2 separate regions of the Homo sapiens genome follow, and region 1 is linked to region 2. Evidence: fine-mapped expression QTL. A gene starts in region 2. The other region holds a variant in brackets. All regions are shown on one strand. Distances are between the middles of the regions. Region 1 overlaps NCOR1 (nuclear receptor corepressor 1). Region 2 holds the start of TTC19 (tetratricopeptide repeat domain 19).

Region 1 (2,500 bases), 50 kb after region 2:
TTTAATTTCAAGAATAATGAACAAATATTTTCTAACCTATTTAAATATGATATTATAAATATTTTCTTTTTGCTAAAATACACTAGCATTAGATGAGTAGGAAAAGAGACAAATGATCCTCTAAGAATGCCATCCAGACATAAAAGCCCAAAGTTCTGAGAAAAACGGCAACAACTGAAGGAAATGTTAAAGCATGAGCACCCACGCCATGAATGGTTGCTGTCACTAGGAAGCACACTTACCTCTGCTCTGCAGGCTCTGCGCCCCTCTGAGACAAGAGCAGCAAGCTGTCCTGTTTCTCATGCACAACCGGAACCTGGGGTGGGGAGATGGGCTCGTAGGGCTCCGAAGAGACGTGACTCCTCTCTGGGGATTTTCCAGGCCTACTATTGTAATATGTGAAATATTAGATTGTGTTTCAAAGGCTAACCTGGGACTTACCTAAACAGAAACTTGTTAACTCATGACTTCATTCAGGAGAAGGAGCAAAAGCTGCCAATTTCTATCAGAAAAAAAGTTGCCTCAGGTATTCACTATATACATAGTTAAAACAAACAAACAACAACAAAAAAAACCACTGTGTTACTGCCACTTGACCCATGCGCGCCCCGTGGATCCAGGAGTCACGTCATCAGACAGTGCTGCCCGGGCAGCAGCAGTGGCAGAAGCTGCGTCCTTGAGGCTCCGCATGTCCTTCAACATCAGACACCATCTCACCCTTGGCTCCTTAGTCCAGGTGAAACCTCAAGGGTTTTCCTACCTATTTTGAGTCGACTGACCAGTTCTTTCATCGTCAAGTTAAAGATAAAGGACTTCAGTACTAAACTGACACCCAAGAAGTTTTATCAGGTGAGTCAACATAGGTTCTAGTTACACTATATTATGGCAGAGGGGTTCTCTGCAATTTTATATTTTTTCTCTGGATACCATTTGGTAAGAATAATATAAGATAGACACACTGTTTAGCTCCCACCCATTTATCATTTTTTTTTTTTTTGAGACAGAGTCTGGCTTTGTCACCCAGCCTGGAGTGCAGTGGTGTGATCAGCTCACTGCAACCTCTGCCTCCCAGGTTCAAGCAATTCTCCTGCCTCAGCCTCCCGAGCAGCTGGAATTGGAATTATAGGCATGCGCCACCATACCC[C/G]GGCTAATTTTTGTATTTTTAGTAGAGACGGGGTTTCACCATGTTGGCTAGGCCTCCTGACCTCAGGTGATCCACCTGCCTGGGCCTCCAAAAGTGCTAGGATTACAGGCCTGAGCTACCGCACCTGGCCCATTTATCTTATTATTAAAATTTTTATTTTTTAGAGACAGGGTCCCGCTCGTTGCCCAGGCAGGAGTACAGGAGTGCAATCATAGCTCACTGCAGCCTCAAACTCTTGGGCTCAAGTGGTCCTCTCACTTACATCTCCCGAGTAACTGGGATTACAGGCATGCGTCACCATGCCCAGCTAATATTTTTATTATATGTTTTATTATGTCTGGTGGCCCATTTTTAATTTTTTGTAGAGACAGGGGTCTCACTATGTTGCTGACCTCAAACTCCTGGGCTCAAGCAATCCTCCCACCTCAGCCTCCAAAAGTAATGGGAATTACAAGCACCTCGCCCCACCACACCCTCAATTTTTTTTTTTTTTTAAGACAGAGTCTTGCTCTGTCACCCAGGCTGGAGTGCAGTAGCACGATCTTGGCTCACTATAACCTCCACCTCCCAGGTTGAAAGGATTCTAGTGCCTCAGCCTCCTGAATAGCTGGGATTACAGGTAGCCACCACCACACTTGGCTGATTTTTGTAGTTTTATTAGAGACGGGGATTCACCATGTTGGCCAGAATGGTCTCAAACTCCTGACCTCAAGTGATCCACCTGCCTCAGCCTCCTGAAGTGCTGGGATTACAGGCGTGAGCCACCACACCCGGCCCTGCTAAAATTTTTTGACATAGCGATTATGCATATGAAAGCCACCTGTGACTTTCAACATCTGGAATTATGACTATTAGACTAAAGCAAAATTATAATATGATTTGTTATGGCCTTTCTCAATCAGCCCATCCAGTTGTTCAAGATAGCCACTTTTTTTTTAAGTTGTTTTGCTGTTTACCTCCAAAACTCTGTAAATAATCTTAAACATGTTTTTTTTATTTATAAAACTTGAAACAGTATCTGTTAACTCTCTTCCATGAAAGATGAAGAATTTGATTTGCCTTCTCTGTTGTTGCCCATTTTATTTTTATTTTTATTTTTATTTTTGAGACAGGGTCTCCCTCTGTCACCCAGGCTAGAGTGCAGTAGTACAATCACTGCTTACTGCAGCCTCAACTTCTGCGCTCACGTGATCCTCCCACCTCAGGCTCCCAAGTAGCTGGGACTACAGGTGCATGCCACCATGCCTGGGCGATTTTATTTTTTAGTTTTTTTGTGGAGATGGGGTCTCACTACATTGCCCAGGCTGGTCTTGAACCGCTGGCCTCAAGCGATCCTCTCGCCTTGGTCTCCCAAAG
Region 2 (3,017 bases):
ATAAGCTAACATCAGTTGGCTTTTTTCCCATCCTTTTTGGAAACAAGTATGTTTGAATACTTGGCTGCACTAATCTTTCAAGCACATATACTTAAGTCTCCTTAATTTTGACTGAGATGAGGAAACAAAGTTGGCTTATTTTTCTCAGTTCCTTAAAAACAGTAACTCAAGATAAACCCTTTCAAAATGCAGTACAGTACTTTTAAAACAAAAGCCATCCAAGTTGAATAAGCGATGGCAGTTTGGGGGCCTGATATGGCTGTTATTTATAAGGTGGCCATTTTTACATCCTAAGAGTAGTTCATTAGTCAATGCATTTTGAGTATATCAAATTTGATTTGATCTTATCCTAGCATACTCTGAACACATCTTGAGATCAACCCTTCTCAAGTGATTTTGGTGAGCATAGCCAAAGAGTACCCTCTGCTGGTCAGAAAAAAAATGGTGCTTTCACAATACCCAGATTTACTCCAACGATTGCATATGCATTTAGGTTTTGTGGCTCTTAAAATGCTTTTTTTTTTTTTTTTGAGATGGAATTTCGCTCTTGTTGCCCAGGCTGGAGTGCAATGGCGCGATCTCGGCTCACGGCAACCTCCGCCTCCCGGGTTCAAGCGATTCTCCTGCCTCAGCCTCCTGAGTAGCTGGAATTACAGGCGCCCGCCACCACGCCCAGCTAATTTTTTGTATTTTTAGTAGAGACGAAGTTTCACCATGTTGGCCAGGCTGGTCTCGAACTCCTGACCTTAGGTAATCCAACTGCCTCGGCCTCCCAAAGTGCTGGGATTACGGGAGTGAGCCACTGCGCTGGGCCTACTTTTTAAAGTGTATGGAAGCATTAACTTTAATGTTAACATCAGAATTTGAGAAAAAGAAGTTTAATAATTCAAAATTTCGTGTAAAATAATCAAGAACTCCACGTTTCTATCACTCACTGTAGGCTCCCGTCCCTTCCACCCCCGGGCGGGGACCCCTCCCAGCGACCCGGCCAGCTCTCAGCACTTCGGTCCCCACTGGCCTACTCGCTCCGACGGAGGGGCTCCTGCAACTGCGCTGTACCGTAAATATTTGCTGAATCGATTTGACTTTTACTTGTTCCAATTTCGCTTTTTTGTTGTTTTGTTTTTTTGTCTTTTTACGAACAAGAGGTTTAGAGAACCACATGGAAAAAAGGCAGGGCCAGGCCCGGACACCCCGCCTCCTGCCTCCCGGCCCGGCGGTGCCCGGATGCCCCGCCCGCGCCCATGGCGCAGCCACACACGACCTCGGTCCCGTACTTCGCGCGCTCTCCTGCACCGCCGCCGCCATCTCGCTCAGGAGCTCCTCCACAACCGCCGGCAACACTACGGCCATCGCGCCGCAGGACACGCCCTCCACGACCGGCGGACCGCCGCGACGCTCCAGCTGACTGCGCCTACCTGTGGAGGATCCTGACCCCCCGCCGGGGCAGGGCGAGACGGAGTGACGTCGGGGCGCGTCATCGCGCGTGCGGACGCAGGGATGTCCTGCTCAGTCGTCAGGGCCCGGCCAATCCGGAGGGCGCTCGGCGCGTGGTCGGGGGCCAGGAGCGCGTCTGGCCTGCAGTGCGCAGAGGACGCGGCGGGAGCATGTTCCGGCTCCTGAGCTGGAGCCTGGGCCGAGGCTTCCTGCGGGCCGCGGGGCGGCGGTGCCGGGGCTGCTCCGCGCGCCTGCTCCCGGGGCTGGCAGGAGGTCCGGGGCCCGAGGTGCAGGTGCCGCCATCCCGAGTCGCGCCGCACGGCCGGGGCCCAGGCCTGCTGCCGCTGCTGGCAGGTGAGGGGCGCGGGCCGGGCGGGGCCGGCCGGGCGGGGACAGGGGCGCGGGCCGGGCCCGATGACCTCAGAGCCCCTTCCCGCAGCGCTCGCCTGGTTCTCGAGGCCCGCTGCGGCAGAGGAGGAGGAGCAGCAGGGAGCCGACGGGGCCGCTGCCGAGGACGGGGCGGACGAGGCCGAGGCAGAGATCATCCAGCTGCTGAAGCGAGCCAAGGTGAGGCGGCTCCGGGCCCTGCGCCCGGCCGAGCGCGGTAGCCTTTGTGAGCGGGGTCTTGGCGTTGCTGCGCATTACTCTCTCCGCCTCGCCGAAGAGTGGATGGAGGCTCCGCGGGTAAAATTGCCGAGAATGAGGTGGGTCATCCGAGAGGGGATTGGAATCCATCCAGGCTTTTCCGACTCTAAGGCCTGCAGTAAAACCTCTGCAGTGTCAAGTGCAAATGGAGATGGCGCCCTAGGCATCACGCTTTATGCAAACGAAATATCGGGAACGTTTTGTAGTGGTTTTATCAATTAACCAGCCTATCTGAAATGACATAATTTCGCACGTATATAGCGGCCTGAAAATGGCAACTTAGTGTTGGTTATGCGGTTCGGTTCTCCTCCTGAATTCTTCCTTTTCTCCACATCCTTTTCTATTTTTTTTTCCTCCTCTTTTCCCAAGTTATCTCATCTCTTCCATTGAGCTAAATACCTACTCGATGCCAACAACGTCCAAATTTGTATTTCCATTCTGTAGTGTGCTACTGACATGCCATTTGCACTTTAGGACCATACCTACCTCTCAGATTTAACATGCCCAAAACTAAACGATCTTTAATGCCTCCTCAACATACGCTTTCGCCATCTCTTTACTACCATCAGTTTTTCAGCCTAAAAACCTCATAGTCATTCTTAAAACTTGTGGTACCTTACCATTGCCTTCCAATACACTTACAGTCCAGCAACAAGTCCTGTTGCCAACAAATGCAAAATATTTCTCAAATCTTTCCCCTTTTGTCTATCTCCCTTGCTGTCACCCTAGTGCAAACCATCATTGCCACCAACTATGCTCCAGTAGTCTTTCCTGGCCTCCTGGCCTCTTGCAATCTATTCTCCATGCAGAAACCAAAGCGACCAAAAAAAAAAAGAGTAAATTGGATTATGTCATCTCCTTGTCAGAAAGCTCTGAATGGCTACCCACTGCATTTATGATAAAATACAAACTCCTTGCCTTGGCTTGCAACACCC

The links. PIP is the estimated chance that this variant, and not a neighbour inherited with it, causes the effect. A credible set is the group of variants that fine-mapping cannot tell apart.
Region 1: its variant is the best candidate, but not a certain one, in a credible set for the expression of TTC19 in whole blood (TOPMed, PIP 0.64).

The regions. Positions count from the first base shown.
Region 1 is chr17:16,048,603-16,051,102 of GRCh38, forward strand. NCOR1 (nuclear receptor corepressor 1) reads right to left here. Exons shown (of 46, transcript NM_006311.4): 41 at 243-386. Among named protein-coding and RNA genes, the nearest start is that of TTC19, 50 kb to the left of the region's middle. The variant C/G (reference allele first, on the strand shown) is at 1,145.
Region 2 is chr17:15,998,242-16,001,258 of GRCh38, forward strand. It overlaps TTC19 (tetratricopeptide repeat domain 19), which reads left to right and starts at 1,583. Exons shown (of 10, transcript NM_017775.4): 1 at 1,583-1,791; 2 at 1,877-2,004. The coding sequence starts at 1,608. It overlaps ZSWIM7 (zinc finger SWIM-type containing 7), which reads right to left and starts at 1,463. Exons shown (of 5, transcript NM_001042697.2): 1 at 1,278-1,463. The coding sequence starts at 1,353. RefSeq lists silencers at 1,037-1,196, 1,547-1,936 and an enhancer at 1,337-1,426.